Linked DNA regions of Homo sapiens. The protein of the gene in region 2 binds, or shares a complex with, the protein of the main gene of each other region. Links are inferred from orthologs where the notes say so. Each region holds a gene or a part of one and is shown on either strand. Other genes may lie near its edges.

Region 1 (16,007 bases), on a different chromosome or scaffold from region 2:
CTAACTGTCCATCAACAAATGAATCAAGAAAACGTGGTATACACACACAAGGGAACATGTTTCAGCCTTCAAAAAATCCTGCCATTTGTGACAACACAGATGAGCCTGTAGCTCTTCATGTGAGCTACAGCCTGTAGTTCATTGTGTGAAGCAAAATAAACCAGGCATGGGAAACTAAATACTGAATGTATTTTACTCATATGTGGGAGTTAAATTGAGCAAATGGGACTATGGAAGTAGGGGATGTAATTGTGGGTATTAGAGGATAGGGGAGAGGAGGGAGAGGGGAGAGGGGAGGTTGAGAGGAGGAGGGGGGAGGAGAGGAGGGGAGAGGAGGGGGAGGGGGAGGGGGAGGGGGAGGGGAGGGGGGGAGGGGAGGGGGGAGGGGAGGGGGGAGAGGAGGGGAGGGGGGAGAGGGGGAGGGAGGGGGGAGAGAGGGGGGAGAGAGGGGGGAGAGGAGGGGGAGAGGAGGGGGAGAGGAGGGGGAGAGGAGGGGGAGAGGAGGGGGAGAGGAGGGGGAGAGGAGGGGGAGAGTATGGCTCATGGGTGCTAAGATTACAGGTAGAAGGGAGAAATGGGTGCAGGTGTTCTGCAGCACTGCAGGTGAATATGGTGAACTATAACTTATTGTCCACTCTCAAAAAGCTAGAAGGGAGGACAGAGTGTTCACAACACAAATGTTTGGGGTGATGAATATGCTAAGTCCCCTGATTTGATCATGATACATTGTATACAGGTATCAAAATATCACTCGGGCCGGGCGCAGTGGCTCACACCTGTAATCCCAGCACTTTGGGAGGCCGAGGTGGGTGGATCACCTGAGGTCGGGAGTTCAAGACCAGCCTGACCAACATGGAGAAACCCCATCTCTACTAAAAATACAAAATTAGCCAGGCATGGTGGCAGGTGCCCGTAATCCCAGCTACTCAAGAGGCTGAGGCAGGAGAATCGCTTGAACCTGGGAGGCAGAGGTTGCAGTGAGCCAAGATTGCACCATTGCACTCCAGCCTGGGCAACAAGAGCGAAAATTCATTTCAAAAAAAAAAAGTCTCCATAAATATGTACAGTTATGTGTCAACTAAAATAAAGGAAAAACTGCAGCAAATGTATCTATTTTTGACAAAGATCAGGGGTCAGCAAATCTCCCAGAAGGAGCCAGGCATTTTTGGCTTTGGGGCCATTTGCTCTCTGCCACCCGTGCTTAGCTGCTCCTGCACTGGGAAAGTAGCTGTAGACAATTTGTCAACAAAGGAGAAAAGCTGTGTTCCAATAAATCTTTATTTACAAAACTGGGCAATGGGCTGGATTTGACACAAGCCCTACAGAGAATCCCATAAGAATGTTACGTGTCATTATTAAAAAGTCAAAAAACCGACGCTGCTGAGGTTGCAGGAAAAAATGGAAAGCTTATACACTGTTGGTGGGAGTGTAAATCAGTTCAGCTATTGTGGAAAGCAGGGTGGAGATTCCTCAAAGAGCTAAAAGCAGTAGCGTTGGACCCAGCCATCCCATCACTGGGTATATACACTAAGAGGAATATAAAGCATTCTCCCATAAAGATACATGCATGCAAATGTTCACCGTGGCACTGTTTACAATAGAAAAGACATGGAGTCAACCTAAATGCCCATCAAGGACAGACTGGATAAAGAAAATGTGGTACACGTACACCATGGAATACTATGCAGCCATAAAAAAGAATGAGATCATGTCTTTTGTGGGAACATGGATGGAACTGGGGGCCATCATCCTAAGCAAACTAAGACAGGAACAGAAAACCAACTACCACATGTTCTCACTTATAAATGGGAGCTAAATAAGAACACATGGACACAAAGAGGGGAACCACAGATACTGGGGTCTACCTGAGGGTGGAGGGTGGGAGGAGGGTGAGAAGCAGAAAGAAATAACGACTGGGTACTGGGCTTAATAACCTGGGTGAGGAAATAGTATGTATAACAAACCCCCATGACACAAGTTTACCTACGTAACAAACCTTCACATGTACCCCCAAAACTAAAAAGTAAAAAAAGAATGTTAGCTGTCAGCACTTCCGTTCAGTTTTGTACTCTCTCCCTATTCTTTATATCTGATATTCCACTATTATTTATATTTACCTAATTTATATTTGATAGGAAAGCAATCAGATAAAGAGGAGGTATAAAAGTGGAAAAAGGTGAAAATTAACATCTGTATGTAGGTATGTATGCCTAATAAATTACTCAATTTTAAATTATATGTAGTTATTAAATTGGGCTGGTAACAAATGTAACGATGAAATCCCACACAAAATCTAATAACCAGTTAAACGTGAGATCAAATGAACAGCAACTATAGAGGTAAAACATGCATAATTTAGAAAAGTGGCTATCTGTTTTGAGAGCTTTAAAATGCGGCTGCTAGATAAAAGGCTCAATGTGGTGAGGCAGAGGCAGATTCCCAACACATCAGTCATCCTCCATCAGTATAATATCATCCAAGAAGTACTGCTGATATTGTTATCAGGACAAGAAACTCAATGTTTCTATGAAAAGCCAAAACTAGACAAGAAAATTCTAAGAAGAATGATATTCACTCTGTTGATGTCTAGGCTGCACTTTAACATCTACGATAGAAGGTCACCATTTCCGGGGGCTAAATTTTGAAATATTTATGTTCATGAATTCCTACTTTACATTTAGCCCCCAAATAATGAGCAAATGGAATAGAAGGTCTCAATCGAATGGTATAAAAGAGACAAGATGACAGATTAATTCAATACAGTACCCTCCTCACTCCAGAAAAACAAACAAATCTTTAAAGTCCCGCTGAAAAAACTGCTGCAAATAAATTTGAGACATGACAAAGAATGCATTACGTAAACAGCTCTTCCAATCCATGATAATGATCAACAGCTCAGCGGAATTTTTTTTTTCTTTGAGATGGAGTTTTGCTTTTGTTGCCCAGGCTAGAGTACAGTGATATGATCTCAGTTCACTGCAATCTCCGTCTCCTGGGTTCAAGTGATTCTCCTGCCTCAACCTCCCCAGTAGCTGGGATTACAGACACCCTCAACCATGCCCAGCTTTTTTTCTTTTTGAGACAGAGTCTTGCTCCGTCGCCCAGGCTGGAATGCAGTGGCACCATCTCGGCTCACTGCCAGCTCCGCCTCCCGGGTTCCTGCCATTCTCCTGCCTCAGCCTCCCGAGTAGCTGGGACTACAGGCGCCCACCACCATGCCCGGCTAATTTTTGTATTTTTAGTAGAGACGGGGTTTCACCGTGTTAGCCAGGATGGTCTCGATCTCCTGACCTCATGATCCACCCGCCTGGGCCTCCCAAAGTGCTGGGATTACAGGCATGAGCCACCGTGCCCGGCCTAATTTTTGTATTTTTAGTAGACAGGGTATTTCGCCATGTTAGTCAGGCTGGTCTCAAACCCCTGACCTCAAATGATCCACCTGCCTCGGCCTCCCCAAGTGCTGGGATTATAGGCATGAGCCACTGTGCCCAGCCTATTAGAAGGATTTTGAAGAGTTAAAAAACTGCATATGACTTTTGTAATCCCAGCACTTTGGGATCCTGAGGCAGGTGGATCACCTGAGGTCAGGAGTTCGAGACTAGCCTGGTCAACATGGTGAAACCGCATCTCTACTAAAAATACACAAATTAGCCGGGCATCGTGGCGTGTGCCTGTAGTCCCAGCTACTCGGGAGGCTGAGGCAGGAGAATCGCTTGAACCCGGGAGGCAGAGGTTGCAGTGAGCTGAGATCTCACCATTGCACTCCAGCCTGGGCATAGAGTAAGACACTGTCTCAAAAAAAAAAAAAAAAAAAAAAAAAAAAGAAAAAAGAAAAAAAAGAAACGGCATGACTTTTAAATGTACTTTAAAAAAAAGTTATTACTGATAAGGTAAATAGCCAAAATGATGTACTACGTTTGACATGTGAGGCTGACAATGTCCACAATGTGTGACTGGACGCTGCTTTGTGATGGGTGAAGGAAAAGGTGCTCCTACATTAGTGAAGTGTAAATGGGTGCCATCTTTTTGGACGGTACTTTAACAATCTTTATCCGTTTTAAATGCAATTAGACCCAGCCGTGTGTAAAACAGCAAGACTGAAGACCATTTAGGAGTCGATTAAAAACAGGTGGGTTAATTTGAGCACCAACGTGCCCTGCATCCTTAAAAATGCACAACAATCAGCACAGAAAGTTGCCCCATCTGTAAGGCTCTTAATGCCATACACGTGCGCAGAATGTCTTTGGGTGATGAGCAGAAAATAGGGAAGAGACACTACGGGGGCAGGGAAGGACACACTTCCCGCCACACCTTCTCATATTGCTGCTCTTTCAAATTAATACTGAAAAAGGCCGGGCGCAGTGGCTCACGCCTGTCATCCCAGAACTTTGGGAGGCTGAGGTGGGTGGATCATCTGAGGTCAGGAGTTCGAGACCAGCCCGGCCAACATGGGGAAACCCCGTCTCTACTAAAAATATGAAAATTAGCCGGGCGTGGTGGCGGGCACCTGTAATCCCAGCTACTCGGGAGGCTGAGGCAGAATTGCTTGAACCTGGGAGGCGGAGGGTGCAGTGAGTAGAGATCCAGCCATTGCACTACAGCCTGGGCAAAAGAGGGAGACTTTGTCTAACACATACACACCAAAAATCACCAAATACTAAAAAGTACCTCCCATTAAAAAATCATTTTAGTAGAAGATAAGTAGACATAAATGAATTTCATCAAAACAATTGAGGTATTCTTACAATTACCCATCCATGGAAGACCAAAAAACTAGGTACACGTGAACACTGATGATAGAACATTGAAGTTTATGTGCTGTATTGCTCAAAATAGAACCATAGCAAGAAAATAAGCTTTTCTACACATTCCTATAAATATTTAGGGACAATATTGACTATTGGTAAATGGAAAAATACTTATTTCTGAGCACATGTTTAAAAGCTTACATCCTGACCACAGAACAATTAAGATTTTCTAGGTTTTTCTCCCCCTTCTGAGTTAACATAAACCACCTGGATACATGGAAATTGAAAGCAAAACACAGAAGACAAAGACTCTCAACTTAGGCAATGAAATTAAGAAGGAAGGTTATTTGAGAAAGAACGAATTTCGGACTGTCATATCTAAACACTTCTATATACACGTAATTTGAATTAAACATTTCCCTTACCGCTCTACACAATCCTTTAAAGGGGCTGGAGGACCAAGACGTGAACCAGGGCTGTAAAAACCAACAAAAGCCTCAGGGGTGGGTAAGGAAACGAGTATGGTCTAGGGACAGTGATTTTATTTTTAAGATGAGGTGATTGAGCAGGTTCATACATTCAGAGCTGAGAATAAATAAAGGTAGAAGAAGCAAGAAGACGATGAAGACTTTGTCTATATCCTGTCTTAGGTGACTCAAAGCATTTCATTTAAACTTTATATAGCATATATATATATATATATATATATACACACACACATATATATATTTATGTGTATATGTATTTTTTTTTTCTTCTTGAGACAGAGTCTTGCTCTGTCGCCCAGGCTGGAGTGCAATGGCGTGATCTCAGCTCACTGCAAACTCTGCCTCCTAGATTCAAGTGATTCTCCTGCCTCAGCCTCCCGAGCAGCTGGGATTACAGGAGCCCACCACCACGCCTAATTTTTTGTATTTTTTTTTTTAGTAGAGGCGGGGTTTCACCATGTTGGCCAGGCTGGTCTGGAACTCCTGACCTCAGGTAATCTGCCCACCTCGACCTCCCATAGTGCTGGGTTACAGGCGTGAGCCACCACGCCCAGCCTTACATAGCATATTAATACACACAGGGCATCACCGTCCTCACTCCAGGGTTCAAAGCTGAGGTTCTGTGGTGTTGACTGGGTTGCTCTGTTTCAGGGGAAAGTACGTTAATGCATACAGGATGATAACGCCTGGTATTTGCCAGTTGTCAGAGTGGGAACTGATCAATCAAGCCCCAGAGAAAGATGACTGGACGGCCTAAGGATTAATCTGGGATAGGCAGTCACTTTTTCCCGTGAAGTCGGGTGGGTGAGGAGTTGGGGAGAAGCTAGTTATTCGAGTCCAGGCAGGAATACAGCTGGAGGGAGGTAAAGGAAGGCTGCTGGTTGAGGTTATTTTCTGAGGATGAGTGACTTCCCTAAGCTTGCATTTTGTCTCTATGCTTTTTCTACAGACCGTACCCCTCCCACCTCACCTTTCTACCCAGGTGTCCTGAATGATTAGAAAGCAGCAGTTAAGATTATAGGGCTTGAAGTCTCAGACCCAGCTTTGAATGATTTGCTGCTTTCTACCCCAGGCAAGCCATTTAACTTATCTGGGGCTCAGCTTCCTCCCTTGGTAAACAGGACAAACAACACCGTCAGAATTGTATGGCATTTCAATAACTAAGTTACGGTTAACCATAGTATTTGCACAATTAGCACCAAAACACCCTCTGGACTCCTACCAAATGCAGACCAGACATTAGCTAATCCTGACATTCAAGTTGCAGTACCCCCTACTCTGTACTTAATTTTTACTTGAGACGAAGTCTCACTCTGTCACCCACGCTGGAGTGCAGTGGCGTGACCTTGGCTCACTGCAACCTCTGCCTCCTGGGTTAAAGCGATTCTCCCGTCTCAGCCTCCCTAGAAGGTGGGATTATAGGCACATGCCACCACGCCCAGCTCATTTTTGTACTTTTATTAGAGATGAGGATTTCACCATGTTGGCCAGGCTGGTCTTGAACTCCTGACCTCAGATGATCCACCTGCCTCGGCCTCCCAAAGTGCTGGGATTATAGGCGTGAGCCACTGCACCCAGCCCTCTGTACAGTATTTTAGACCGAATGTCTGAAAAGGACGAGAGACTTACCTAAATACCCCAAGTAAATATGAGGTTTTAGAGGAAGATCTTTTCAGCAAAATGGGGTAACTGGACTTTGTTCTTTCAAGGAATCCTTTGGTCCTGGGCTTTGAGCAGCCAGAAGGGAGAGGGTGGGGGCACCTAGTAAGCTCAATACGCGGGTTCTAATCAGCAGTGGAGAACAAAAGCGGGAAGGGCAGAGAGCAAGACAGGAGGAATACTCACCAGCTTCACACCTCACCACCAAGAGCAGGTCCAGCTCTGGGCCAGCTGGCAATCACGGAAAAAAGAAGGCCACGCCCAGCTCCACGCCCACGTGGCGATAGTTCCTGGGGAGCGCTGAGCCAGTGATGTTGCTGCTGCTCATTGGCTGCAACCGGCTCTGAACCACCAGCCCCAGGGAACAGGCACTTTTCTGCACCTGTGTGCACCACTTACAGGTGCTGCTGCTGGCAAGAGGCTGCCTTTACCACCACACACCTGTGCTGAGGGCGCCCGGATGCTCACAGCCTTCAGCTGGCTGTCCTGAAGCAATTAGTGTGTGTGTGTGTGTGTGTGTGTGTGTGTGTGTGTATGTGAGAGAGTGTGTGTGTGAGAGAGAGAGTGCATGTGTGTGTGAGAGAGAGAATGTGTGAGACAGAGACAGTGTGTATGTGTGTGAGAGAATGTGTGTGAGACTGTGTGAGTGGGTGTGAGACAATGTGTGTGAGACAGAGAGTGTGTGTGTGTGAGAGACTGTGTATGATAGAGTGTGTGTGTGAGTGTGAGTGTGTGTTGGGTGCCCTTATTTTACATAATCTGGAAGTTGCACTTGGCATTTTTTAATTTTTTGTGTATTGACAAATTATAATTGTATATTTTCCTGGGGTCCGGTGTGATCTTCTATGTATACAATGTCAAATGATTAAATCAAGCTAACAAACACATCCATTGCCTTGAATACTTATTTTTTTGTGGTGAGAACACTTGAAATGTACTCTCTTAGTAATCTTGAAACAGAAGTTTATACTTTTGATAAAGTCCCATGTATTTATTTTTAGTTTTTTTTGATGTGGAGTCTTGCTCTGTGACCCAGGCTGGAGTACTCAGTGCAAACTCCACCTCCTGGGTTCAAAGAATTCTCCTGCCTCAGCCTCCTGAGAAGCTGGGACTACAGGTGTGTACCACCATGCCCGGCTAATTTTCAGATTTTTAATAGAGATGGGGTTTCACTATGTTGGCCAAACTGATCTCGAACTCCTGACCTCAGGTGATCCACCCGCCTCGGCCTCCCAAAGTGCTGGGATTACAGGCATGAGCCAGTGTGCCTGGCCAAATGTGTTTGAAAATTCCATTTGAAGAATTTATGGTGAATGCATTTTAAAATTTATGGTCTCTCCTTAGGTCATGAAGGTCTTCTGATTAGTTTTTAGAAAGTGTAGTGTCTTTCCTTTCATATTTAGATTTATACTATACTTGGAATTAATTTTGTATATGGTATGAGGTAGGAATTCAGATTTTTTCTTCTATGTAGGAACAATCAATTTAGCACCATTTGTTACAATACTACCCTTTCCCTAGTCTTTTGTAATGTCAGCTTGTCAGAAGTCACGTGATCATGTTTATGCCCTTCTGTTCTGGACTCTATTCTGTTTCCCTAGTATATTTCTCCAATCTCTAATTACATGTATGGAAAATACCATACTGTGCTAGTTATCCTGAACTCTTTGCATTTCTTTTTTTTCTTTTTCATTTTTATTTTTTTGAGACAGAGTCTCACACTGTCACCTGGGCTGGAGTGCAATGGCATGATCTCAGCTCACTGCAACCTCCGCCTCCCCAGTTCAAGCGATTCTCCTGCCTCAACCTCCCTAGTAGCTGGGATTACAGGCGCCCGCCACCACGCCTGGCTAATTTTTTGTATCTTTAGTAGAGACGGGGTTTCACCATATTGGTCAGGCTGGTCTCGAACTCCTGACCTTGTGATCCGCCCACCTGGGCCTCCCAAAGTGTTGGGATGACAGGCGTGAGCCACCGCGCTTGGCCACATTTCTTCATATACTTTAGAATTTGCTTGTAAATTTCCACTAGAGTACTTTGGGAATTTTATGGTAATTGCAATAACTTTATGCATACAGCCAAGGAAAATTGTCATCTTTGAAAGACAGTGTTCCCATTCATGAAGTTTGTATATTTCTCCATTTATTAGGTATTCTTTAATTTTTTCTTTTGAGATAGGGTCTCACTCTGTTGCCCAGGCTGGAGTGCAGTGGTGCAAGCACGGCTTACTGCAGCCTCGAACTCCTGGGCTGAAGTGATCCTCCCCACTTGGCCTCCCAAAGGGGTGGGATTACAGGCGTGAGCCACTGGGCCTGGCCATGGCACAACTGTTGTTTTTTTTTTTTTTTTTTTGGAGACAGTGTTTTGCTTTTGTTGCCCAGGCTGGAGTGCAATGGCGCGATCTCGGCTCAACACAACCTCCACCTCCTAGGTTTAAGGGATTCTCCTGCCTCAGCCTCAAAAGTAGCTGGGACCACAGGCATGCACCACCACGCCTGGCTAATTTTGTATTTTTAGTAGAGACGGGGTTTCTCCATGTTGGCCAGGCCGGTCTCAAATTCCTGACCTCAGGTGATCCCCCCGCTTCGGCCTCCCAAAGTGCTGTGATTACAGGCGTGAGCCACTGCGCCCGGCCACAACTGTTATTGTTTATTCCTATTTGAGATTATTGACACCAGTATAAAAGAAATTTTATGCTTTTAAAAACTGCTTAATAGTACATAGTAATACATTTTATTTTCATATATCGAGTTGTTGTGTGTGGGATCTTACTAATTCACTTTTTAATTATTATTTTTTAATCCCCAGGGTTTACCAGGATTATCAGTTCTTGTTCTATGTATGTAATCACATTGTTTGTGAAAAATGACAGTTTTATTTCCATCTTTATAATGTTGTGTTTATTATTCCTCTTGTTGCCCTGTTACACTGACTAGGACCTCCAGTGCAAAGTTAAATAAAAGTTGTAATAGTGGTTGGGTTTTTTGCTCTCATTTTTATCTTAGGGAAAGAATTTTCACAAATAGTGAAATATTAGATTAAATTAACAATAAGCATGTTAGCAGTAATTTTTTAGAAGCCCTTCCTCAAATTAAATAAGTCACCATCGGTTCCAAGTTTGCCAAGTGTTTTTTAAAAATTGCAAATTGATGTTGAATTTTATCTTTTTTTTTTTTTTTTTTTTTTTTTGCATCTACTAGGTTGGTCTTCCTGAATCTGAAATAGTTCCTGCCAACTTTGTGTTCTTGTTCTGTCATGTCACTGAGGCCCTGCTGTGTTTATCTCAGCACGTTCCATCCACAGGCACATGATATCCATTTGTCTTCTTATTGGTGATGTTAACTTTGAGTACTTGGCTAAGGCACAATCTACCCTGTTTTCCCACTACTCTTACTTTGTAATTCACATGTAGTTTCTGGGGAGAACCTTAAAGACTCATGTGAGTACATCGAGTCTCCATCTACTGGTTTCAGCACCTTCTGATGGTTTCTCTACCACCACATTTCGTCTTTCATTTATTTGCTTTTTTTTTTTTTTTTTTTTTGAGATGGAGTCTCATTCTGTCACCCAGGCTGTAGTGCAGTGGCAAAATCTTGGCTCACTGCAACCTCCACCTCCTGGGTTCAAGTGATTCTCCTGCCTCAGCCTCCCAAGTACCTGTGACTACAGGCATGCACCACCACGCCCGGCTAATTTTTGTATTTTTAGTAGAGATGGGGTTTTACCACGTTGGCCATGCTGGTCTCGAACTCCTGACCTCAGATGATCCACCTGCCTCAGCTTCCCAAAATGCTGGGATTACAGGAGTGAGCCACCGCACCTGGCCTACTTTCAAAATATTCTTTTTCTTTTGCAATTGCCCTATGCTGCATCTCCTTTGCTGTGTATCTGTTGTTTAAATTCTTTTAAATGAAGACAAGAACCAAGGTCTCACGACTGTCATCCACATTTCTACCATTATTTGGTTTGATCATTAAATTATTCCAGATTTGGCCGGTGGGAACTCATTCAATCAGGCTCCTTGTTCCTATTGCTATGTCCCCATTATTATTATTATTTTTCAGAGACAGGGTCTCACTCTGTTGCCCAGGCTGGAGTGCAGTGATGCATCATGGCTCACTGCAGCCTTGAGATTCTGGGCTCAAGTGATCTTCCCACTTCAGCCCCCCAAATAGCTGGGACCACAGGCATGCGCCATCATGCCCAGGTGATTTGTAAAACATTTTTTAATGTAGATGGGGACTCCCTATGTTGCCCAGGCTGGTCACTAACTCTTGGGCTCAAGCAACTCTCCACCTTAACCTCCCACAGTGCTGAGATTACAGGTGCAAGCCACTGGCCTGGCCCCCATTGTTCTCTGAGCATTGTCTTACTTCTGGCACAAGATGTTCCAAGCCCATTCTGTACATTCCCAGCACCAACTGTGGAGTCAGCTCTTTCTCTGAAGATTCTTGGTTCCTTTAATGAGGAACGGTACTTAGAAAACAATACCTGAGCACCAGTGTGCTGTTTCTATGATACCATTGTTTCTACACTTAAGTTTCTTTTTCATGGCTGAATAGTACTCCATTGTGCGTAAGTACCACATTTTCTTTATCCATTCATCTGTTGATGGACACTTAGGTGCTTCCAAATCTTGGCTATTGTGAATAGTGCTGCAATAAACATGGAAGTGCAGATATCTCTCTGATTTACTGATTTCTTTGGGGTATATACCTAGCAGTGGGATTGCTAGGGTGGAGGTTGAAGACCCCAACTGCTCTGGCTTTTGAAATAAAATTTCTTCAGAATTAAGAAATCAACCTGGGCCGGGCATAGTGGCTCACACTTGTAATCCCAGCACTTTGGGAGGCCAAGGCAGGCAAATCACGAGGTCAAGAGATCAAGACCATCCTGGCCAACGTGGTGAAACCCTGTCTCTGCTAAAAATACAAAAAAATTAGCTGGGAGTGGTGGTGCACACCTGTAGTCCCAGTTACTCAGGAGGCTGAGGCAGGAGAATCACTTGAAGCTAGGAGGTGGAGGTTGCAGTGAGCCGAGATTACACCACTGCACTCCAGTGTGGTGACAGAGTGAGACTCCATCTCAAAAAAAAAAACAAAAAACAAGAGAAACCAACCTGGATGATACCTGATCATTACATTGTAAAAAGATGGCTGTTTCAGAAGGGGAAAAAAAACATTGTGATTGCTTTCTAGATCTTTGAGTTTTAAATGCTGCCATAACTAATTTAAGAATGTAGTAGTTAGTTAGGACCTTAAAAAGTTAAGAGTTACACTTCATTTTTAGAGCTCCTTAAACATGAGGTGATTTCCTTTTTCCAGTACTTGCTACATTTATTATCTTCCTTAGAAGTTCCTTGTGCACACTTTCCCCAGACACGTTAAGAACAGGTTTCTTCCTTAACAGTTGATGGACCAGTCTATTGGTAAATAAATCACACTCTAAAAAATTTCAAATTGCATTCATGCATATTTTTAATTAAATTTTTCTAATACCCTTGAAGATATGAAGACATATCTCCAAGAGATGTTTACATGACATATTCAAAGACATTCTGGTAGCCAGGAGTAGATGTGGGTTGGAACTCACCTTACCTTGGTGCCCCCAATGCAGTGACTAATCTATGTGTTAACACATGACACTCCATAACATTGATGGAGCTATTTGGAGGTCATGCCCTACACCAGTTCCCAGAACGAATGGAGCCATTCCAGAGTCAGGACGGCCCACAAAATAGGCAACTGTTTCCCAATTTCTCATTAGGAAAAAAAAAAAATACCCAGAGGGCCACCAGATCAGTCACCAGAGGGTCCAGATCGATTCATCTCTATTGCTTCATCACAGCACTAAGAATTCCAGTCCTGTATTATCTTCAGGAAGTCTCCTTCCACTACAGGGCCCTCCAGTCTTGCCAGCATATCCACTTCATTGCTGTCTTTCTTCTCCCTGGGAAGGATAAAAACAAGGTTTTGTTTTCTTACATTTGGTTTTCTTTTGCAGCCCCAAAACAAAGAGACAGAACCTCTAGAACAGAAATTTACCACCTAGGAGACCACCATGGCCCCATGCAGTAGGTCAAGACAAATAGGAGCACTCTTAGGAGCTCAGGAATGAATTCAAAGTGCCTTGGGGTTCAACCAAGACAGCCCCCATGATCCCTCCTCCTACAAATCACACCCTTGGATGGCTCCCTCTCTCACTGGACCAGGGCTGGACCATGGCCAATAAAACAAGGCAGACGTGATGGGACGCCACTTTCAAGATTAAGTAATAAAAGACTGTGGCTCTGTTTTGAGCTGTCAGTCATCTCTCTCTGCCACCATCTCCCTCTGCCTCTGCCTCTCTCAGCCTCTCGTTCTGGAGGAAGCCAGCTGCAATGTCATGAGCAACTCCCTGGAGAACAACTGAGGCCCCCCCGCCGCCCACAGCCACACAAGTGAGCCTGGAAGCAGATTCAACAGCCCTCATCAAACCCCAGCCAGTGGCTCAACTGAGACCTCGGGAGATACCATGAGCTAGAACCTCCCAGTTACATCGCTGTCGTATTTCTGACCCTCAGAAATTGTGTAAGACAATACGCCTTTATGTGGCTTTAAGTTACTAAGCGTTGAGGTAATTCACTGCATAGCAATAGACAACTCATACACCAGGAAAAATTGTATCTTTCACCCAGAACCCACCACTGGTTGAGAACATGTGTTAGGCACTGTGTTAAGTGCCGTATGTGCGACTTTTCTTTCAGTCATTATAAAATCTCCATGGGAGAAGACACCATCCCAATTTTATAGATTAGCAAATTGAGGCTTAGAAAGATTAACTTGTTCATGGCTATATAGCTGGTAAGTGATAACAAACTCAGCTGTTCAGGAAGAAAAGGTGAAGAAATGAAGAAAAGAGAAGACAAAGACAAGAAAGAAGATATCAGATAGGAGAATCCCAGTTAATGGTTCCTTTAGGTAAAAGTGGGAGTTGGGGGTTTGAACAGCTACATTAAGGGAAATATAAATCCCCAGGAAACAAAAGCAGAATGGTAGCAACACCTGAAACAATAGCATTCCAGGTCCACAATCTCACTTTCTATTTTAAGAGACAGGGTCTCACTCTGTTGCCCAGGCTGGAGTGCAGTGGTGTGATCATGGCTCACTGTAGCCTCAACCTCCTGGGCCCAAGTGATCCTCTCACCTCAGCCTCCTGAGTAGCTGGGACTACAGGCATGCACCACCATGCCTAGTTAATTTTTCTATTTTTTAGTAGAAGACAGGGTTTTGCAATGTTGCCCAGGCTGGTCTGAACTCCAGACTCAAGCGATCTGCCTGTCTCAGTCTCCCAAAGTGCTGGGATTACAGGCATGCACCACTACACCCAGCCCAGCATCTCACGTTTTACAAGGAGCTTCTCTTGTGTGGTAGGTTTTGCACAGGAAACCCGGTGGAGACTTACAAAATGACCTCTTCTCTCTTCTTTTGGCTTGAGAAGGCCTCGCACAAGGTCAGAATACCATAGACTCCAATCGCATTCTTGCTCAAGTCCAGATGTCTCAGATGTTGGTTTTTGCGGAGCATGGAAGCCATGGCCTGGCAGCAGATGGAGGTGAACAGGCAGTTTTCCAGCCTGTGACACAGAAACAGACAGCAGACAGCAGAGAAGTCATCACAACTCATCTGAGAGCTCAGCCGGTGTGACGGCTTACAGCCAAGAAATCACACTGACAGGAATGTGTAATGTTGTTCCAACTATGGTCTATTCACCTATAGTCAATCAGTTTCTTTGTGTCCTTTTGGTGATTTCAGAGCAGGCTATAGTATTCCTCACTCTAAGAATTTATGAGCCAAGTATATCTTTCGAAAATGGCTTGTACCTACTTATCTTCATTCATTCAAAAGATATTTGATTCTACCTAGTGGACATTTTTGACACAAGAGTGAGCAACACACACCATCCTTGCCTTCCTGTAACTCACAGTTGACTGGGCAGGGTATTGAGGGAGGAGACAGGTAACAAAATACATGTATTCAAATAGCATGGTTTTATTGTCCTAATGGGCCAGGTGTTTGGATCTTTTTAAAAAAAAATTTTTTTTGGAGACTGAGTCTCACTCTGTTGCCCAGGCTGGAGTGCAGTGGTGTGACCCTGACTCACTGTAGCTTCAAATTCCTTGGCTCAAGCAATCCTACTACCTAGTAGCCTCCCTAGCAGCTGGGACTGTAGGCACATGCCACCACACCCAGCTCAAATCCTTCTATAAGTAAGTCACTTTGCCCTCCCACACAGTACTCACTGAAAAGTTGGGGAGGCACATCTACAAATAAGTGACCATGTCTCAAAGAGGTGCCGTGTATCATAAATACGATGCCGGCCCATAAGAGTCCTTGAACAAAGAGTAAAATTCATGGATTATTAGATTAATGGGTTAACGGGTTATCATGGGAGTGGGATGAGTGGCTGTATAAGAAGAGGGAAAGAGATCTGAGCCAGTATACAGCATGCTCAGTGACTCACTAGTGACCCTGCAGAGAATCCCCCCAGCACTAAGGCTCTCACCAGATGCAGCCCCTCCACCTTGGACTTCTCAGCCTCCACAGTCCTTTTCTTTATACGTCATGCAATTTCAGGTATTCTGTTATAAGCAGCAGAAAACAGACTAAGACAGATAGGGTCCATGAATTTTACACTGAGCCAAGTTACTGCTCATGACCAAAACTAGATTAAAAAATAATCTCAGTAACTCGCCATTTAACATTACGTATATCTCCAAATGCTATCCCTCCCCCCTCTAAAACTTAAAGTATAATAAAAAAATTTAAAAAAAATTAAATTAAACAGCAAACCCAAAGGGGACAGGTGGATGAAAAGGACCCAAAGCAGATAACTGTCTTGTTAGCCCCACAGGTATACTGGAAACATAAAATTAATTTTGTGATCTGAAAAAAATAATAATAATCTCATACAAGCAAAGGCTTAGAAAATACTGCATAAACACTTTCAAGTGTAGAAAGTTCTTTTCTACCTGAAAATATATTTCACTCAATCTAAGAGATAAATCAACATTTAAAACCCAAACTAGATTTGAGGCATCAAAGAATCATGACTGGCAGTGAATTCATACTGA
Region 2 (14,673 bases):
CCCGCACGTCCAGGGTATGTCCCAAATCTTGATTCACGTGAATCGATTGGACCCTAACGGCGAGGCTGAGATCTTGGTATTTGGGAGGCCTTCTTACCAGGAGGACACAATCAAGATGATCATGAACCTGGCTGACTATCACCGCCAGCTCCAGGCGAAAGGTACGGGGCTGGGAATAGGGCTACCTGGAGCAAACCCTGGCTCCGTAGGAGTGATCCTGGGGTTTCCTGGCTGCTGGGGCGGCAGTCTCGCCCTCCCAGTCGGCCTGCGGTTGGTGGGTGGGGGAGGGGGCGGTTCTCGCTGCCACGGATCCAGAAGGCCAAATTGAACCCTCGTTCTGGGATTTCTGGCTCCTACTCCCGCAGGCCGCTTGGGTGACTGTCCTTTTTTGGAGAGGATATAGAGACACAGCTGTGGCCTCTGCACACTGCTCTTCTTCCAGGCTCAGGAAAGGCCCTCGCCCAGGATGTCGCCACTCAGAAGGCCGAGACCCAGCGGTCTTCAATAGAAGTCCGGGAGGCCGGGACGCAGCGTTCGGTGGAGGTCCGGGAGGCCGGGACCCAGCGTTCGGTGGAAGTCCAGGAGGTCGGGACACAGGGTTCTCCGGTGGAGGTGCAGGAGGCCGGGACCCAGCAGTCTCTCCAGGCTGCCAACAAGTCGGGGACCCAGCGATCCCCCGAAGCTGCCAGCAAGGCAGTGACCCAGCGGTTTCGCGAGGATGCCCGGGACCCAGTTACTAGATTATGAAGGCATCTCAGGCCCTGGAGCCAGAGCCAGTCAGGGGTTAAAGTGAAAGCCCGTATTTCCGCCCAGAAGCTGGGGTTGGGGAGAGGATGTGGATTTTTTGTTTTACCCTTTCTGTTGCATGGTTGCAAACACAAACTTGAGTTCTAATAAAGAATTGCAAAGTGGAAGCCCGCCCCCCGCCTCCCCCCCGCCTCACTTAAGTCCAGGAAGCTGGGGTGGCGAGGAAGGATGATGTGGATTGTTTTTGTTTTACACCTTCTGTTGAATGGTTGCCAACACAAACTTGAGTTCTAATAAATAATTGCATTTCCCTAACGTCTGTATTTTGGAAGGTAGAGGGGAGGGAAAGGCGCATTCCTCCAACAGCCCAGTTCTGCCCTGCGCAGCCCTCTACCTCGAGGCAGGTGGGGCCTGTGGTTCCTAGCCGCCCGAGGTGGCCATCTTCCCCGGCTGTGGTCCGGTGTGCCCCTTGTACTCCTTAACCGCGCGCATCTGGCTTTAACAGGTGAGAAGCCTCTCTGGCCCACTAGGAAATCTCTCCAAGCCCGCTGTCGTTCTACTCAAGGTGACTTGGGATGAGAAAACTGGGTCGCTTGGGGGCCAGCTGGATTTGGAAGGCCCTGGGTGTATTGCTACTCTGTCACAGAACACTTTCTCAGCTGGGGAAAATGACATCGGGGAAGGGGGAAACGAAGAGACCCGAGCTGCACTCTTGGGCTGCACTGTTGCAGTCTTCAGGTCTTGCTTGGGTCACCCACCTTCCACGAAGGTCGTGGACACCAGCAAGATACAGGCATCGGCTACTCTTTCCTCAGTTACTATGGCAGCGAGAAGCCCCAGCAGAGAACACTTTGGCTTCCCTAGGGTCACAGCTTTGGTCAGGGCGCTGGGATGCAGGTCCCTGAGCCTGCGAATTAATCTAGAAGGATGCAAGCCAACAGCTGGGTGCTAGGATTAAACAATAGCACGCAGTAATTCTATAATTAGGATTTTTTTTTTTTTTTTTTTTTTTTTTAACCAACCAAGAATCACTGGTAATCTTCATTTTATTTTGGAGACAGAATCTCTCTCTGTGGCCCAGGCTGGAGTGCAACGGCTCGATCTCGCCTCAACACAACCTCTGCCTCCTGGGTTCAAACGATTCTCCTGCCTCAGCCTCCCGAGTAGCTGGGACTACAGGCCCGCGCCACCACGCCCAGCTAATTTTTGTGTTTTTAGTAGAGAAGGGGCTTCACTATGTTGGCCAGGCTGATCTGACTTCAGGTGATCCACCCGCCTGGGTCTCCGAAAGTGCTGGGATTACAGGCATGAGCCACCACGCCCGGCCAATCACTAGTAATTTTTAAAAGTTCAAAGCTAACTTTAAATATAAGGTGAATGTCTATCAGACTCTTTTTGTCACCGCTAATTATCACTCCAGTTTAAAATAATCATGTATCTTACAATAAGGGAATTACCACATAAAGCTGAATTTACAATAACTTATTAGCAACTTTTAACCGCTAATCATTTTATTAAAATAGTTGACTAATTTTAGAAGAACTTTAGAACACTTTAAATTCAAAATCAACACAAAATCAGTTTCAAATGAGGCTACATCAGAGCAGAGCTAAAACTTAATGTGTATGTTGTCTTTCTCTGTGTAATACCCACCTTACCAGAATGTCAGGTTCTCTCCTTTACAAGCTGTTTTCACTGTCCTTGCCCAAACTCAGTGTTACCAATCTATTTTATGTTCATGTGTAACTTTTCTACTTTTTCTGATATCTACCCCCATTTTAATTAAGTAGCTTTATAGACTGTTTTAATATTTAAGAGGGCAAGTCTACTCTTTTTTTTTTTTTTTTTTTTTTGAGATGGAGTCTCACTCTGTCACCCAGGCTGGAATGCAACGGCATTCCACTGCAACCTCCACCTCCTGGGTTTAAGCAATTCTCCTGCCTCAGCCTCCCGAGCAGCTGGAATTACAGGCGCCCACCACCACACCTGGCTGATTTTTTTTATTTGTAGTAGAGACTGGGTTTCACTATGTTGGCCAGGCTGGTCAACACCTGTCTCAGCCTCCCAAAGTGCTGGGAATACAGGCCTGAGCCACCATGTCCGGCCCTCACAACCTTTTCAACTCATATCCAAAATATCTATGAACATCTTTCCCGGAACTGACACTTTAAGTTTCACCTATTCATATGGCTGCTTCTTTCTCTAAACACCCAGTAAATGGAAACTCTATATCATGCTGGAATTATAGATGCCATCAAGCCAAGCCAGCTGCCCAGCATGGAGGAACAGGAGAGGTTGCCCTATGCCAAGAGTCTTGAGAGTCAAAGATTTCAAATATTGCCCAAATATAGTCATATTCTGAGGTACTGGGGATTAGGACTTCAATATATGTTAATGTGTACAAAGGATGGAAGGAGTTTAGGATCATACAGTATTTTTGGAAAAATTAGAATAAGTTTTAAGCTTACCCCTTTTTCCCCAATAACAAAATATTTAATGGGCCAGGTGCAGTGGCTTATGCCTGTAATCCCACCACTTTGGAAGGCCAAGGCAGGTGGATCAGTTGAGGGCACGAGTTCGAGACCAGAATGGCCATTCTCTACTAAAAATACAAAAATTAGCCAGGCATGGTGGCAGGTGCCTGTAATCCCAGCTACTCGGGAGGCTGAGGCAAGAGAATCGCTTGAACCCGGGAGGCAGAGGTTTCGGTGAGCCGAGATTGCACCATTGCACTCCAGCCTGGGTGACAGAGTGAGACTGTCTCAACAAAAACCCAAAATGTTCAATGGTTTTATAAAAATTCCACCAGGGGTCAGGCACGGTGGCTCACGCCTGTAATACCAGCACTTTGGGAGGCTGAGGCAGGTGGATCACGAGGTCAGGAAACCGAGACCATCCTGGCTAACATGGTGAAACCCCATCTCTACTAAAAATACAAAAAATTAGCTGGGCGTGGTGGCACGCACCTGTAATCCCAGCTACTCAGGAGGCTGAGGCAAGAGAATCGTTTGAACCTGGGAGACGGAGGTTGCAGTAAGCCAAGATCGTGCAACTGCACTCCAGCCTGGGTGACAAAGCGAGACTCTGTCTCAAAAAATAAAATAAAATAAATAAATAAAAATAAAAATCCCACCAGGGCCAGGTGCAGTGGCTCACGCCTCTAATCCCACCACTTTGGGAGGCCAAGGCAGGAGAATCACCTGAGGTCAGGAGTTTGAGACCACCCTTGCAACATAGTGAAATCCCGTCTCTACTAAAAATACGAAAATTAGCCAGGTGTGTTGGCACATGCCAGTAATCCCAGATACTTGGGAGGCTGAGGCAGAAGAATTGCTTGAATACGGGAGGCGGAGGTTGTAGTGAGCCGAGATCACACCACTGCACTCCAGCCTGGGTAACAGAGCGAGACTCCATCTCAAAAATAAATAAAAATAAACAATAAAAATCTCACCAGGAAAGCTGGGCACGGTGGCTCACGCCTGTAATCCCAGCACTTTGGGAGGCTGAGGTGGACGGATCACGAGGTCAGGAGATGGAGACCATCCTGGCTAACACAATGAAACCCCGTCTCTACTAAAATACAAAAAAAAAATTAGCCGGGCATGGTGGCGGGCGCCTGCAGTCCCAGCTACTCGGGAGGCTGAGGCAGGAGAATGGGGTGAACCTGGGAGGCGGAGCGTACAGTGAGCCGAGATTGCGCCACTGCACCCCAGCCTGGGGGACAGAGCGACTCCATCTCAAAAAAAAAAAAAAAAAAAAAAAGGAATGAATAAAGAAAAATGTAAAACTGAAACAAAGAAAATATTCAACATCACCTCTAATCAAAAAAGCACAATTAAAGAGACTTGTGAGTTTAAAACGCTTGCAAAAGGCTAGAATACTTTATTGCCAAGGAGTGAATAAATTCCATGAGTCAAACCAATCCAAACTGTGCTTGAACCCACAGGGCTTTTGGCACCTTTCGCCCCAAAAATTCTACTTCCAGAAAGTGGGGCGGCAAGGATAGGAGCTGTTTTGCAGAGATTGGTAATTTCAGTACAACACGTAGTGGAAAAACAACCTGGCCCATGCCGGACACCCGTGCAGCCTCGCCTTGTAGAAAAAGGTAGACAGCCGGCTCCAAGGCAGGGCGCCATCCACGAGCCAAGGTGCCTGGGAACCCTGCTCTTCCGTGGTAAATCGAAAACTACCATTAATGAACGCTGACCGCCCAGGCTTGCTTCTTGCAACGTCATCCTCTGCCCAATGGATGCCCCACTCCAGGAAAACGCACAGCTGGTGCTCTTCGGGGGATCAATTACCAGCTTCAAAGTGAGAGCCTCAGATAAGCTGCTTTAGTAGTATGTGTGAGCTCATCAGAAATGAAATTTTAAGCCCCACCCCAAAAGTACTGAATCAGAATTCTCTGGAGAAGGAGCCAAGGAAATTGTGTTTTAACAAGCTCCCAAGGTGATTTCTTACAAGCTTTAAAGTTTGAGGACCAATTATGTAAAAACAAAACAGATCACCATTTGTGAGGTTATCTGCCCCTGCATATCCGCTCCCTGTGGGTGAGGGCCTCTCTCTGACCAGAAAATCATAAAAGGATTAGGAGTTTCAAAATGATGGGAATTCAGGAAAAAAAAACAAAAACAAAAACCTACAAAACTATCACCTGCCCACCCTTCATATCAAAACATGAGTGGGAGTCAATCTTTTATAAATTTGCTTTATTATAAGTGTGTGAAGATCTTAATGCTTTTGGCAAAATAGCCATTTCTTTATTAGAATAGTTCAAACTCACTCTTGCAACAAAATAAACCACAATCCATCAAGACACAGGAAAAAGGAATACGGGGATTTAAGAATGCTATACTTGCTTTTCTTCAACTTTAGCAGCAAAAGTTAGAAAGTTAAGATGTTCCCAACAGTAACTATGTTGTCTTAAGCAACAGGATCCTGGGGAGAGTGGGGGTCTGATGCATGGGCCTTCAAGTTCTTCTCAAGGTGTTTCATCTTCTCAGCTGGAAGAGAAGCAGTTGATACTAACCATGGACAGGGACAAGTGTTTGCTGTTTCGAACTACTCCGTGACTGGGAGTTGGGGAGGAGAGAAAGATCTGCGATAGTGCTGTAACCCAGGTGAGGCTGACTTGGGCAGTGATGGGTCTGAATCTATCAGATCTCTGCTGACTTTCCCAAGGTCCTACCCCAGGATCCCCTCCCAACAAACTTCGTACAGCTAGCTCCCTGGGGTCTGGAAACCAAGAAATTTTGAGAAGGTTAAGGGAGGATGGAAGGAAACCGAGCAAGGCCAGTATGGTCACTCGTGGCTTCCTCCACATGCAGGTTCTCAAAGACCCTCACCTCGGGCACGATGTTCTCGGTGAAACCATGCCAGGCACAGGAGCATGCTCTTCACCCGATTCTGTACACGGGGCCGCCCGAAAACGGTGATTTCGACTAGGTTCCCTGAGTCCACTATGTCCACTGTCAGCAGGGCCTGGCTCGTCCACTCCATTTCTGGAATTATGGCTCGGTCTGGGCCTAAACAAGTAAGGAAAAACTCTGAGGGGCTGCACGGTGGCAGGTTAGAAGCTGGATTTGAAGGGAATGTTGGCCAGGGAAGGGAAGAACTGGAAGGTGGGCATCACTGCAACACTCCTGGCTTGCGAATCTGGGAAAGAGACTGTAGAGAGCTGCTCTGCCAAGCCTCTCTCAGACTGGAGGTGGACAGCCCACTAGCACACCTGGGGTCGCTCACCAAAGAGCTCGTCTGCCAGCCATGCCTCTAGGTAGAACACCAAAGGGTCTCTCAGTTCCTGCACCGGAAACCACCAGGGCCGGATGCGAATCTGTGGCGGCGGAAGTGGTAACCTACGCAGCTGCTCCAGGGAGTGGGCCGGAGTCTGTTTGCCCCGCTGGGACTCAGCGGCACCAGCATCATCGACCATACTGGGACCAGCAGCCGCGGAGCGCGCTCGAGGCGGCTTTCGCAAGACCTCTTCCAGACCCAGGCGCGAAGCTCGGGCTCTCTTTTACCATATTCGACCCGCTCCGCCCCTTCCGGCGGCGCCTCGCACCGCGTCGGGGTGAGCGGGTGCAAGCGACGCCCCGGCATAGCGGCACCATTGGACACTTCCTGCGCTGCTTCAATCGCCGGGATTGCCTCTTTGACCTTGAACTAGTATTCATTTGGCCTCCTGTTGGGTCTCCAATGCTCTCCTTCGTCATCTCTGCTCGTAAGGTATGCTTAGCCTGAAAGTCCTCTGCCCACCTTATAGCTGATTAACAGTGTGAGTTTGAATTGACGACTCTATTAATAGACTGGGAATCACCTTTGCTGGCTAGGTTAAGGTTTCATCGTTGCCTCCCAAAGATAGGTATATCGGACCCAGGGCAGGCTTGTTCAATGTGTCAGTTTTCTCTGTTCTGCTCCCTGTTGTTATCTTCTGACTCTCCGGATGGTTACCATTTTTAAATCATTCAAGCAAGTGTGTCATGTTTTAAACAACACGTCAGAGGTGGTCTTATAGAACATGTAGCAAGTTAGACAATTTTCCTTTATTTCCAGTATCCTAAGACAACCATTATCGATGGACATTTTTTCCCAATGTTTGTAATTTTAATTAAAAATTTGGATTATGAAAGGTTTCACACATCCAAAAAAGTAATATAACACGGCCATGTACCCTCCCCGAGTTTAACAGATGTTGACATTTCCCCACATTTGCCTCACTCCTCTGTTTTTAAAACAGATATTACTCAAGCATCTTTCCTTTCCTTCTCCAGAGGAAATCATCCTGAAGCTAGTGTGTATATATCATCCCCATGCATGTCCTTACACATTTTCTACTATATTTGTAGAAATATTGTTTGGTTGTTTCAGAATAGTATCTGCTGAATATACTATTTCGTTCTTACAATTAACTATGTGTTTGTTTTAAAACTTCTATTTTTCTGAGATAGGTCTCACTCTCTTGCCTAGGCTGGAATGCAGTGGCACGATCTCGGTTCACTGAAGCCTCGACCTCCCAGGCCTAAGCGACCCTCCCATCTCAGCCTCCTGAGTAGCTGAGACCACAGGCACCTGCCACCACACCCAGCTATTTTCCAGCTCTTTTTGTTGTTGTTGTTGTTTGTCTGTTTGTAGAGACAGGGTCCCACTATGTTGCCAGGCTGGTTTTGAACTCCTAGGCTCAAGCAGTCCTCTCACTTTGGCCTCCCAAAGTGCTGGGATTACAGGCGTGAGCCACCACAGCCAGCATAGAAGAAAAAACTCAAAATAGTGAAAAGCATGTTCCAGACTCCACATGATCATCTAGGACTGTGTGGAGGTTCCAGTTTTCTGCCCCTGATCCCACCCCCTCTCACCCTCAATGGTTTCTGAGAAAACTTGACTATCAGGTGTGCAGGGCATACTTACAGGAAAACAAGATTTAGCTATGGCTCTGATGCAATAAACATTTAAAACCTTAACCTGGCCAGGCAAGGTGGCTCATGCCTATAATCCCAGCACTTCGGGAGGCCAAGGCAGGAGGATCACTTGAGGTCAGGAGTTTGAGACCAGCCTGACCAACATGGAGAAAACCGGTCTCTACTAAAAATACAAAAATTAGATGGGTGTGGGCCAGACACGGTCACTCATGCCTGTAATCCCAGCACTTTGGGAGGCTGAGGCGGGCAGATCACCTGAGGTCGGGAGTTCGAGACCAGCCTGACCAACATGGAGAAACCTAGTCTGTACTAAAAATACAAAAGATTAGCCGGACATGGTGGTGCATGCCTATAATCCCAGCTACTCAGGAGGCTGAGGCAGGAGAATCACTTGAACCCAGGAGGCGGAGGTTGTCGTGAGCCAAGATCACACCATTGCACTCCAGCCTGGACAACAAGAGCAAAACTCTGTCTCAAAAATAAAAAAAAATAAAAATAAAAAAATTTGGCCAGTGTGTGGTGGTTACCTGCAATCCCAGCTACTCGAAAGGATGAGGCAGGAGAATTGCTTGAACCCCAGAGGCAGAGGTTGCAGTGAGCCAAAATGGCACCACTACACTCCAGCCTGGGCTACAGAGTGAGACTCCATCTCAAAAAACAAACAAAAACCCCTTAACCTAATCAAGGCCAGATATTGTGGCTCGTGCCTGTAATCCCAGCCCTTTAGGAGGTGGAGGCTAGCAGATCGCTTAAGCCAAGGGGTTTGAGGGTGCAGTGAGCCATGATCACACCACTGCACTCCTGCTTGGGTGACAGAGCGAGACCCTAAAAATAAACCTAAAAAAATTAAAGCCTTAATCTAATCATGAGACGCACTTACATTACTGTAGACAAAGAATATTTTACCCAGCATGTATAGAATTTTAACAGCTTCTTTAGGGGGACTGTGGTGATCTGAGCCACACAGGAATAAGTTAACTTCTCTCAAATTCCACTTCCTGGTGTGGAAAAGATGGCACCCCATTATCTTGTGGGGATCTTCTGCCATAAACCCCACATAAATCCCCAGCATGCTGGACACCGTGAAGCAGTTAGTCTCAGATACAACTCAGTCTCAGGTGTAGCCCAACAGTGGCTAGTTCAGTTATTTCTTCCTCAAGGAAGAAATGATCCTGTGGGATTACTGCTCTCCCCTGAGGAAAGAACCTCCCTGCTCAGTGAGAGGCCAGAATCTGATTCGCAAGTGTTGGTTTCGCATCTCTCAGCTTTGGGGAGACCGATAGGCCTTTGCACCTGAGCCTGCCAAAACAGGAGGGCTATTGTGCAAGAAAACCTTTTGGGAGCTCAGTCAGTCACGTGGGCCTCCTTGGAAGCCTGGGGACAAGTGGGCAGTTTTCCCGAGTGCATGGAAGCCAACACCAGAGACTGAGGTGGAGAGATGCACTGAGCCAACTTGGCTGGGTTAATAGAACACTTTTCCCGCCATCTGGGTTAGCTTCTTGGGGTGCCAGGGATCCTGCAGTGGGCCTGACGCCAGCCCGAGATCAAAATGGGAAAGCGGCCAGAGCAAACTGACGTTTCACAGAGCTCTTAAGGGCCGGAAGATTCTTTCTCACCTTCTCTTTTTCTTTCCTTTTTTTTTTTTTTTTTTTTAAAAACGAAAGGCCTCACATATTTATTACTGAATCCAGCCAACCAACGTGTTCATAACAGATTCAGAGAGGAAAACACGTCGAAATCTCCAGATAGTGGTGACATTTTCAGCTTGATATGGTAACATGATCGTGACCTTCAGACAGCATAAATATGTGTGCCATCTCATGTGCAATTCCTTATAGACCCAGCTTGGTTCTTCTCCAATGTCTCCTTTTGGAGTTGTACCTGATTTTATTTCCAGTTTTCATCCGAATCCACTGGGGAATGGGACGATTTTGCTTTTGTTTCTTGGCCAGGAATCGCTTAATCCTGAAAGTCTTGTGAGAAGACATGGCGAGCAGCGGAGTCAAGAACACACCACGATGGCGGAGAAAGGAAGAGGGCTCCTTCTCTTCTTTTGTTTTCTTTTTTGAGACAGGGTCTCACTCTGTCACCCAGGCTAGAGTGCAGTGGCACGATCTCAGCTCACTGGGTAGCTGAGGCAGGTGCATGCCATCACACCCACTGTAGAGACAGAGGTCTCCCTATGTTGCCCAGGCTGGTCTCGAACTCCTGGGCTCAAGCAGTCCTCCTGCCTTGGCCTCCCAAAATGTTGGACTACAGGCATGAGCCACTGCAACTGGCCAGGGCCAGAAGATTTTAAGTATGCAATTATTTTTTATTTATTTATTTATTTAGAGACGGAGTTTTGCTCTTTTGCTCAGGCTGGAGTGCAATGGCGAATCTTGGCTCACTGCAACCTCCGCCTCCTGGGTTCAAGTGATTCTCCTGCCTAGGCCTCCCAAGTAGCTGGGATTACAGGCATGCACCACCACACCCAGCTAATTTTGTATTTTTACTAGAGGTGGAGTTTCACCATGTTGTCCAGGCTGGTCTCGAACTCCTGACCTCAGGTGATCTACCCACCTCGGCCTCCCAAAGTGCTGAGATTATAGCCTTGAGCCACTGCGCTTTGCCAAAAATATATTTTTTAAATATATTTTTAAAATATATATACATGCCTGTAATCCCATCACTGGGAGGCTGAGGCGGGAGGATCACTTGAGCTTAGGAGTTTGAGACCACCCTGGGCAACATAGAGAGGACCTGTCTCTACAAAAAATAAAATAATTAGCTGGTTGTGGTGACATGCGCCTGTAGTCCCAGCTACTCGGGAAGCTGAGGAAGGATAGCCTGAGTGCACAAGGTCGAGGCTGCAGTGAGCTATGATTGCACCACTGCACTCTAGCCTGGGTGACAGAGACCCCATCTCTAAAAAAATAAAATAAAGATAACGTACAATTTTATGTATTTTTTTAATGGAGGAAAGGGGCTCCATTAAAAGTACCTGGAGTCTATGAAAGTCGTAATGCCTGGCTGCCTTCATCCAGTGATGTGGAACCCCAGAGGCCCCAGTATGACTAGGCCCTTTCCAGGACCCACTCCCATGTGTTTGCCCAGCTTTCCACTTCTGTGGTACAGAGCCAATCAGATCTACAGGACCAAAACTTGAAGCCAATCCCAATCCTACCAGCAACAAATGATGATGGTTGCAGAGATGGTAAAGAAGGCTTAGATTCCAGGCCTGCCCCCAGCCCTGAAATTGTAGTCAAACACATACTTCTCCTTTCACCTTACCTTCTCTGTATATTTGCCTGTGTGATCATAGTCTGGAGTTTTTTGTTTTTGTTTTTTGAGATGTGGTTTCACCATATTGTCCAAGCTGGTCTGGAACTCCTAGGCTCCAGCAACCCTCCTGCCTTGGTCTCCCAAAGTGCTGGGATTACGACATGAGCCGTGCCCAGCCTAGCCTGGAGTTTTTACTGGAACTATTAAAATATGTCTCCTAATCGTTGTTTTGATTTACTGATGGGGGAAGGGAGACTGATCTCATACTTAACTATTTATTTACTTATTTATTTATTTATTTTTGAGACAGAGTCTCGCTCTTGTCGCCCAGGCTGGAGTGCAGTGGCGGGATCTTGGCCCACTGCAACCTCCACCTCCCAGGTTCAAGCTATTCTCCTGCCACAGCCTCCTGAGCAGCTGGGATTACAGGCTCCTGCCATCCATTCCCGGCTAATTTTTGTACTTTTAGTAGAGACGGGGTTTCGCCATGTTGGCCAGGCTGGTCTCAAACTCCTGACCTCAGGTGATCCACCCACTTCAGCCTCCCAAAGTGCTGGGATTACAGGCATGAGCCACCACACCCAGCCAACTCTTCTTTTAAAAAACAGACTTTCTTTGCTGACATACTTGAGTAGCTTTGGTTGTATTTAAGGTGAAGCTGAGCTTTCTAACCATTTCTAGAATCCCCTCCAAGGCACCTCTTTACTAAGAGAACTAACCTTTTCCCAGCTGAGAGAACAGAAAGTAAAAATTAGATTAGTGAGCCTAGAGGGATGGCTCAGGCCTGTAATCCCAGCACTGTGGGAGATAGGAGGACTGCCTGAGGCCAGGAGTTGGAGACCAGCCTGGGCAGCATAAGGAGGCCCTGTTTCTACAAAAAAATTAAAAATTAACCCGGTGTGGTGTCTCATGCCTTGTAGTCCCAACTACTCTGGGAGCTGCAGGCAGGAGGATCCCTTTAGTCAAGGAGTCAGAGGCTGCAATGAGCTATGATGGCACCATTGCACTCCAGCCTGGACTCTCTTTTCCTTATATATAAAACATATATATGCTTATATATAATATATATAGCTTATATATTATATACAGTATATATTTATATAAAATTAAGTTTTATATAACTATATCCTGAGAGAAAAGAGAAATCTGCCATCATTTATAGCAGGTTGAGACAGACACAGATAAAACCAGCTGCAAAACTAAATTTCTCCCAAAGACATGCTGCAGCTGTAAATTGTCATAATGATCTCCCTTTTTTTTTTTTTTTTTTGAGATGGAGTCTCACTCTGTTGCATAGGCTGGAGTGCAGTGGCACGATCTCTGTTCACTGCAACCTCTGCCTCCCAGGTTCAAGTGATTCTCCTGCCTCAGCCTCCCGAGTAGCTGGGATTACAGGCACCCGCCACCACGGCCAGGTGAATTTTTGTAAAGACGGGGTTTTACCATGTTGGCCAGGCCGGTCTCGAACTCTTGACCTCAAGTAATCCACCCACCTCAGCCTCCAAAAGTGTTGTGATTACAGGTGTGAGCCACCGCACCCAGCCGATCTCCCATTTTTGAATGACTATTATGTTCTTACTCAGTGAGAAACATTATTCTCTAAAATTACAGACTATCAGAAAATGTACTATTTAAATTTATTTATCAGTAACAATGAAACATCCATTCTTGCCTGGAGGATCTAAGTCACTTTATTTATTTTTTAATTTTGTTTTTCTTTTTTCGTTTGTTTTTCTAAGTCACTTTGATACAGAGAAACAGCCTTAATTGACAACTCAGTCGCAGCTGTTTTGGACAAGGGGTTGTTTTTTTTTTTTTTTTTTTTTTTTTTTTGAATACAACATTCCACATCTATCTCAATTAAGGACCCTGGGTTCACTTCACTGTCAAGATCTGATGCTGATCCTTATACATACAGCCCAACGAAACATGATTTTATTTATTTATTTATTTATTTGAGACGGAGTCTGTTGCTCAGGCTGGAGTGCAATGGCAAGATCTCAGCTTACTGCAACCTCCACCTCCCGAGTTCAAGCAATTCTCCTGCCTCAGCCTCCAGAGTAGCTGGGATTACAGGCGCCCACCACCAAGCCTGGCTGATTTTTGTGGTTTTTGTTTGTTTGTTTGTTTGAGATGGAGTCTCACTCTGTCACCCAGGCTGGAGTGCACTGGTGCGATCTCGGCTCACCGCAACCTCCACCTCCCAGGTTCAAGCGATTCTCCTGCCTCAGCCTCCCAAGTAGCTGGGATTACTGGTGCCTGCCACCATGCCTGGCTAATTTTTGTATTTTTAGTAGAGAAGAGGTTTCACCATTTTGGCCAGGCTGGTCTCGAACTCCTGACCTCAGGTGATCCACCCGCTTTGGCCTCCCAAAGTGCTGAGATTACAGGCGTGAGCCACTGCACCCAGCCCATGATTTTATTTCTCTCTTCCTCTCTTCCCTAAAATTGTAAAAAAATTTATTGTTGGTGAGATGCCCTATGGTTCTTTGGCTACATCCTTATATAATTGTGTTTTACCATTAGACTTCCATTTTCTTTCATTGTGCCATTGCCAGTTAACACAATTAGCTAGACATATGTGGTCTTATTACCATGGGAGAGAGAAACTGACTACAATCTTAAGCCAGCCTTGGTGTAAACTTTAAAGGCACATCCAAGGAAGTTTCTAGAGCTGTTCTATTTGCTGAAAATATAATCCTGTGAAAACTGTAAAGATGAGACACAAACTGGAGCCAAAACCTCAAGACCCCTTTTAAATGTAGGCAGCATGTTTTGCTTCAGCTGAGAGAGAACTATAGGGCTCTGCTCACAAAGCAATAGGGGTGAGTAGTTTCTGGGACGGCTTTATTATCTGCCTCAGGAGTAGATAAACAACCTGCTCATGCATGCAAGTCACCACACCTCGAACTTTCTCAAGTTCTCGTGAATATACCATTTCTACTTTATGAGTGAACTGTGCTATGCAACTTCCTCTCTACTCAAATGTTTCTCTGATATCACCCAAGATGTGATAGGTATTTGTGGCCTCAAAATTAACTCATGTAAGTGAGTTTGTTGGGTCTGGTTTTGAACAACATACTGTAAAAAGCCAGCAATATTTTTATGTATTTATTTATATTTACTTGTATTGATTCATTCATTCATTGACAGAGTCTTACTCTGTCACCTAGACGGGAGTGCAGTGGCATAATCACAGCTCACTGTAGCCTCGACCGTCTGGACTCAAGCAATTCTCCTGCCTCAG

What was found.
Region 1: the proteins of OOEP (region 2) and NLRP5 are in contact, whole or in part, in a cryo-EM structure (PDB 8H93), measured with the Mus musculus proteins. The link is inferred for Homo sapiens from one-to-one orthologs. Residues at the interface, in NP_080756.1 of Mus musculus: Ser26, Leu27, Arg28, Leu29, Arg30, Thr31, Arg32, Ile38, Val41, Asn43, Tyr48, Met49, Leu75, Leu86, Glu88, Pro95, Thr99, Lys102; in NP_035990.1 of Mus musculus: Glu173, Leu176, Leu195, His196, Gly202, Leu206, Asn322, Leu325, Glu326, Tyr337, Ile338, Leu339, Val340, Glu341, Gly342, Leu343, Ser344, Ala345, Ser346, His373, Asn625, Gln626, Asp652, Ser655, Glu661, Leu662, Cys663, Pro664.

The regions. Positions count from the first base shown.
Region 1 is NC_000019.10:55,977,896-55,993,902, reverse strand, and holds the start of NLRP5 (NACHT, LRR and PYD domains-containing protein 5), read right to left. Parts: upstream 7,129-16,007; 5' UTR 7,082-7,128; intron 6,090-7,081; coding exon of another isoform or gene 5,990-6,089; exon of another isoform or gene 5,274-5,989; intron 1-5,273. Other genes in the region: NLRP8 (NACHT, LRR and PYD domains-containing protein 8), read right to left, coding at 12,745-12,844, 14,339-14,509. UniProt on the Homo sapiens protein: Component of the subcortical maternal complex (SCMC), a multiprotein complex that plays a key role in early embryonic development.
Region 2 is NC_000006.12:73,363,114-73,377,786, forward strand, and holds OOEP (oocyte-expressed protein homolog), read right to left. Parts: upstream 6,785-14,673; 5' UTR 6,680-6,784; coding exon 6,490-6,679; intron 6,273-6,489; coding exon 6,093-6,272; intron 5,751-6,092; coding exon 5,671-5,750; 3' UTR 5,442-5,670; downstream 1-5,441. Other genes in the region: KHDC3L (KH domain-containing protein 3), read left to right, coding at 1-161, 443-747. UniProt on the Homo sapiens protein: Component of the subcortical maternal complex (SCMC), a multiprotein complex that plays a key role in early embryonic development.